2 separate regions of the Homo sapiens genome follow, and region 2 is linked to region 1. The links come from fine-mapping of genetic effects on gene expression. Tissue or cell type: whole blood. Region 1 holds a variant in brackets; the other region holds the start of a gene. All regions are shown on one strand. Distances are from middle to middle.

Evidence for each region. PIP is the estimated chance that this variant, and not a neighbour inherited with it, causes the effect.
Region 2: it holds the start of TRIB2, and the variant in region 1 is fine-mapped to the expression of TRIB2 in whole blood (Lepik 2017, PIP 0.95).

Annotation. Positions count from the first base shown.
Region 1 is chr2:13,035,710-13,038,623 of GRCh38, reverse strand. All of the region lies in intron 1 of LOC105373436 (a long non-coding RNA gene), which reads right to left. Among named protein-coding and RNA genes, the nearest start is that of MIR3125, 300 kb to the right of the region's middle. The variant C/T (reference allele first, on the strand shown) is at 1,340.
Region 2 is chr2:12,715,116-12,718,029 of GRCh38, reverse strand. It overlaps TRIB2 (tribbles pseudokinase 2), which reads right to left and starts at 1,094. Exons shown (of 3, transcript NM_021643.4): 1 at 1-1,094. It overlaps LOC124905974 (a long non-coding RNA gene), which reads left to right and starts at 1,272. Exons shown (of 2, transcript XR_007086222.1): 1 at 1,272-2,914. RefSeq lists enhancers at 627-696, 545-1,184 and silencers at 1,137-1,196, 1,287-1,506.

The sequences.
Region 1 (2,914 bases):
AACAATAAGAATGTCTGACGTATGGACAAGTATAGGCAAACTTAGGGATTCTCAGAAATATTGAGGGCATTGCGCTTTGGGAAAGAGACTAGAGTTTCTGTTAATTTGGCAAGATAGAACTAGTATCATTAGAGTATTAAAGAAAATGTGATATTGATACACACTGGCAGGGTCAGGAACATGGTGGTAACATATTATTTATAGTCTTCATATTAATCCTTCAATGTATATTATGTGCCTTTTACAATTTAAGAACGAGACTCATAGAGGTTAATACATTGCCCAAAGTAGTAGGCTAGTAAGTGAAGGTGTATGCATTTAAACTCATACTTATGAAGACAAAGTCTATTATCTTTTGACTGGACTAAGGAGTCCAGGCTGTTCTATAGGATCATTAATGTTTATGGATATTGAGGTCCTTGAAAAATCATTACAATCCTATGCCTTGGGCAAAATTTCAAAAGTTCTTCCTGTTACACATATCAGCAATACCCCAAGCATTCTTTAAAAATAGATGGTTCAAAATAACTATTTTATTAGACTCATTTATTACTGTAAAGTTCTTTTAATTTAGAATTCAATTATTCCAATGTGAGACCCAATTATTCATATTCAGTCTCCCTCAGAGTATGGGAATAAATACATACATTATTTGGTGTTTCATATTTAGAAGGATTGCAAGTGTTGCTCTGAAATAACTAAAGTGAATATTGGCTGAATTTCCTTGTGACACAAATAAGAAAATTTCCTTCCTGTTCACACATGACCACATTTGCATAATGCATAGACGTCAAATATCCATTAAGCAAAAATACATAAGACATGTTTTGGTAACATTTAATACAAATGCTACTTCTTAAATGAAACTTTTTAGCCCTTTCAGAATTCTGTGTTAGCCCTTTGAGAATTCAGTGGTTTTCTTGTCTTCTTCTTATTTCTTCAACATTTCCCGATTATCATTGTCCTCACTCCAAAGAGAAGGATAACTTGGAAATGCTCTGAAATCTGGAGCTGCGGTTTTGCTACGCTCTGTGACCTCCGCATTCCAAAGCCAGCACAGTTAATAGTTCAGAAAATGTTATAGAATTGGTTTACTTAGGTTGAGTTTAAATAATTTATTTTTTATTTTATTTCATTATTATTATTATTTATATATTTTTTGAGATGGAGTCTTGCTCTGTTGCCCTGGCTGGAGTGCAATGGTGCAATCTTGGCTCACTGAAACCTCTGCCTCCCGAGTTCAAGTGATTCTCCTGCCTCTACCTCCCCGGGTAGCTGGGATTACAGGCATGTGCCACCACGCCTGGCTAATTACGTGTTTTTAGTAGAGATGGGGTTT[C/T]TCCATGTTGGTCAGTCTGGTCTCGAACTCCCAACCTCAAGTGATCCGCCCATCTTGGCCTCCCAAAGTGCCGGAATTACAGGCATGAGCCACCATACCCGGCCTAAATAATTTATTTTTTTAAAAAATGCTTTCAATATTAGGCATATTTTGATTCCTGTTTACACTGGGTAGAATTTGATAGAATTCTTATGATCGCCGACTAAAACAAAGACGAACAAGTCAGCAGCCTGTGAACTTGGAAAACTGTGAACCCTGTTTTTCTACTCTCAGCTCTAACATAATGAACGCTTCTTGAAGAACAGACTCACTGTTAGTGCTGGGGGTGTTTATTTATCCTTTTTCGCCTGTATCCCGTTTGCCTGGCTGGAGATAGCTCTTGCAGTAGGAACCTTTGTCAGGGGATGCATGCACTTTTACAAAGTGGAAAAGAATGCTCCCCATCAGTACTTTGAGTTAACTGTTTCCAACAATCTGTTTTTTTTCTGTGCTGTCAGTTATGATATATCTTTCATCATACAGCTTATGTGAAACCTCTTTGAGAAACTCTGACCTAACAATCAAATTGGACTCATTGCCCTTCAGTGTTTTCATTGTAACCAATAATGCCTTTTATCAAAGTTGTTATTAAGTTGAATTGCAGTTTCCTATTAATATGTCATCTCCCTCGTTAAGTTGTAGATTTTGGGGCAAAAGAATTGTGCTCAGATAGAGCTTAGAGAGGTTGGGATAAATACCCAAGCCTTGAATTCAGCTGACCAGAAAAAAACTTTCATGATTGACTCATTAATCAAAATTAAGCATTTTTAGTTTAGTTTAGAACAGCTTATTTAATAATCACCCTTTATACTTGTGTGGAGCTGTTTTATTCAGATTTTTAGAATGATAATTTCTTCTTTTGATGATAATCTGTTTCTACATAAATTTATCAGTTACATAGTCCACATAAAAGAGTGTGTAATTTCACTTAATAATTCCCTGTGCCTCTGCAGGATCTTAATTCTCAATTTTTTTAAGCATTATGTTTTTTCTATTTGTTCAAATGATAAACTCAAATCATCTATTTTTCATTGTGTGTTACCCTTTGGCTCCTAATCCTTTGATATACACTACGGGATCAGCCCCACAGCTTTAATCCCATGGGATTGAGCAGAACGAGGCTTTAGAAATCTAACTAACTAAACACCCTCCTGCGCATTCACACACTTGGTGGGTGGACCCCTCTCAATTTCCAGGTAATATGTGATTCTTCTCTGCCACAAGTCTGTAGTCCCACACATAACCTCAGAATTTCTACTCTATTTTCCACCTCCTGTTTTTCTCCTGTTAAAGCCAATTTAGTCTACCTACTTAAGAGACTCCAATCTCTCCTACACTTCTAAGAGCTATTCTGGAAAGTTGAGAAGTAACTTCTTCCCACATGTTTTATTCCCTTAAGCTCTCTGATGGTTAATACTGAGTGTCATCTTGATTGGATTGAAGGATGCAAAGTATTGATTATGGGTGTTTCTGTGACGGTGTTTCCAAAAGAGATTAACATTTGAGTCAGTGGGCTGGAGAAGGCAGACCCACCTT
Region 2 (2,914 bases), 320 kb after region 1:
ACTTTTAGTTACTCTGTGTGTGTGTCCCCGGCGTGGATCTGGATGAGTACCCGGGCTGCTAAGGTGCGGAGCTGCAGCGCCAGGGCTCCCGACGCGACCCCCAGGCCGGCTTCCGAATCGCAGACGGGGCGGAGGAGCCCGCGGTAGTTTGTGCAGTCTTCGGGGAGCTCACGGCGGCGACTCAGTCCCAACGCGTTAGAAGCCAAACAAAAAGAGAAAGGAAACAAGCACGGGTCTACCGGCTGGCGACGCACGGCAGCCAGAATCCGCGCTGCACCCCCTTTTTTTGGTGGAAAGGGTGGGGGGCGTGTAAGGGGGGGGTGCGGGAGAGGGCAGTTACCTACGTTTTAACTGTAGATGGCGTCTGAGGCTTTTCCAAGATCGCGAGCTCTCCAAAAATTAAACAAACAAACAAAAAAAAGAAAAATTGCAAGGGAGCATTTAACTTGGTGCGGTCAGCGCTGCCAACAAAAGATTGCAAAAGCTGGGCACAGAGTTGCGGCGCGGGCTGGGCGCAGGTACCGCGACAAAGCCCTGGGCTCGGCCCGCCGCGCGGAGGTCAGCACAGGCTCATGCTGTCGCCGCTCGCTCGCGCCCCAGGTCTTCCTCCGAATGCAGCCAGACGTGCAGGAGAGAACGAGGACAGATCGGCGGTCTCCGATTTCGCCGGCACGAGCTTGCGGGGGTCCTGCGGGCGCTGCAAGGGGAGCTGCGTCCCTGGCCCTTCCAACGCGCGGCGTTCCTTTGCCCCTTTCCCGCTGGAGAACTGGATCTCGTCCTGGAATAATTTGCAATCACCCCGTCTCCCCCTACCCCGAGACCAAATTGCCCGGTGGGGTTTGTTTTGGAGAAAATTGACGGCTTGTCTCCTCCTTCTTTGATTTCTTGCTTGCCCCCCCCAGAGAAAAGAGGGGACCGTGTATTTAAAAATTAAAGGGGACGGCCGACGGTGCCCGAGGCCAATCCCCGCGCTCAGCACGCCCGCATCCCCCGGCGAGGCGGTATTAATAGTTACTTACGTGGCCGGGGATCTCGGAGCGAGCGGGGCCGTGAGTGCGCGTGTGCGCGCGCGCGCCTCGCTCGCGCTCGGTCTCCCCATTCAATGTCACCGACACATTTCCACGGAGCCTCCGCCCCCCCCCCGCCGCCCCCGCGACTGGCTCAGCCCAGAGCCGGCCCCGCCCCGCCCCCGCCCGGGCCCCCCTCATTGCGCCGGGCGCCCATCAATCAGCCCCGCCGCTGCCAGTCCTCGGGCGGCTCCCCGCGCCGCTGCCATTGCAGCTCCGTGCCGGGGGCGCCAGCACCGGCCTCGCAGCTCCCTCGCCCGGCCGGGGAGGTAAACAAAGTGAAATATCCTTCCGCGGCCCGGGGCCCCGGGCGCAGCACCCTGGGTGTCGGCTGCGAGCCGGCTGCGAGCCCAGCTGCGGGCGGCTGGGCCGGGGTTACCAGCAGCGACTCCCGAGCCGTTCCCCACACGCTGCTCCCGCAGCGCCCGCTCCAGCTCTTCGTAGCTCGTTCATGTTCCTGGCGCTTTTCCCCAGAAAGCCAGGCACGCTCTGAGCATTGGGCCCCCAGGCTCAGATGTGGCCCTGAATGAGGAGCTCTGTTTTGGAAGAATGCGCTTTCATCGGTATTGCTGCCTGGAGTTTCGAGAATTCGTTTCATGGTATCTCTCCGACATCCTCCTCTCCATTTAAAAGGAAATCCATTGCTTCCTTTTAGTTGGTGTCACCGCTTGCCCCCGATCCCCACATCCTGGGCTTGTATTTCTAGTGTTTTCAGCAGAAGAGGAACTGAAGGCATCTTTTGATTCAGGTCAAATTTAATCACTAATTCTTCCCTTCCCAGTGCATTGCCTGGAGGGCCTTGGAGGCCAAGCTAGACAAAACTTTGCACCCACACCTCCAGGGAGCGCTGTTGGGTCCTATCCAGGGTGCTGGGCGTCCTGAGTCCTCTTCTGTTAGCCAGGTGAAGGCTGCAGTTTCACGCCCCACTCCACCCCCCATTTCGCCACCCCCCCCGAATTATTCGTAACTTCCTTGGGAGATTCCAGTCCGCGGGCTTGGACAGGAACACCGGAAGCAAGGGGCTTGAACTCAGGCAGAGGCTTCAAACGCCAGCCTTGATCTAAGATATCCTGGTGAATGAGAAGCGATCTAGTAGAGGACAAACTTAAAAAAAAAAATCCCAAGGAACTGAGAAAGGGGAGTTGGGACGACTCCTGGAGCCCTCTGAGCTTTTGCATGCGTGTAGTATATTTTCCACTGGAGGAGGGGACTAAATTATTGTCCACTGTAGGACACTTTCAGTAAAAGAAGGGAGCTATTTATAATTATGTCCACTTGGGACAACAGTCACTCTAATGATCAGGAGTCCTGGGAATGTGGCCAGAGATGGAGAGGACATTGACTATAAAGCTTCCACCCAGCAGCACAGAGTTAAAAGGAAGGTTAAGAAGTGGACCCGTGCCTTCCAGCACCTCTCACCATCCTACTCCCCACAAACCTGCCTAGGATTCAGTCCCAGATCCCAGCAGAATAGATCTATTTCCCTAGGCGATCACCAGGACCACTGACCGAGCAGGGTCCCCTAATCCAGTCTTACCCCAGGAAGACACTTGGCCTGTGTTAGGAACAGTCTCGAAGCAACCCCTGCTGTTGAGTCAGAAAGAGAGGTGCCTAGCCTCCTCTATGCAGTGGCCAAGAGAGCTTTGTAATAATTAGGGGTTGGGACACCTGTGTGCTAGCCCTGGCTGGGTCTCTGATTTCAAATGGAAATTGGGTGAAGACCTTGTTTTTTCTCCCTAGATCCCTGTTTCTTCATCTGTAAGATGAGAAGCATAATACCCGCCCTGCTCACCTCATGTGGTTGCTTTAGAATTATATTTTCAATTCCAGGAAATCTATGAAGGCTT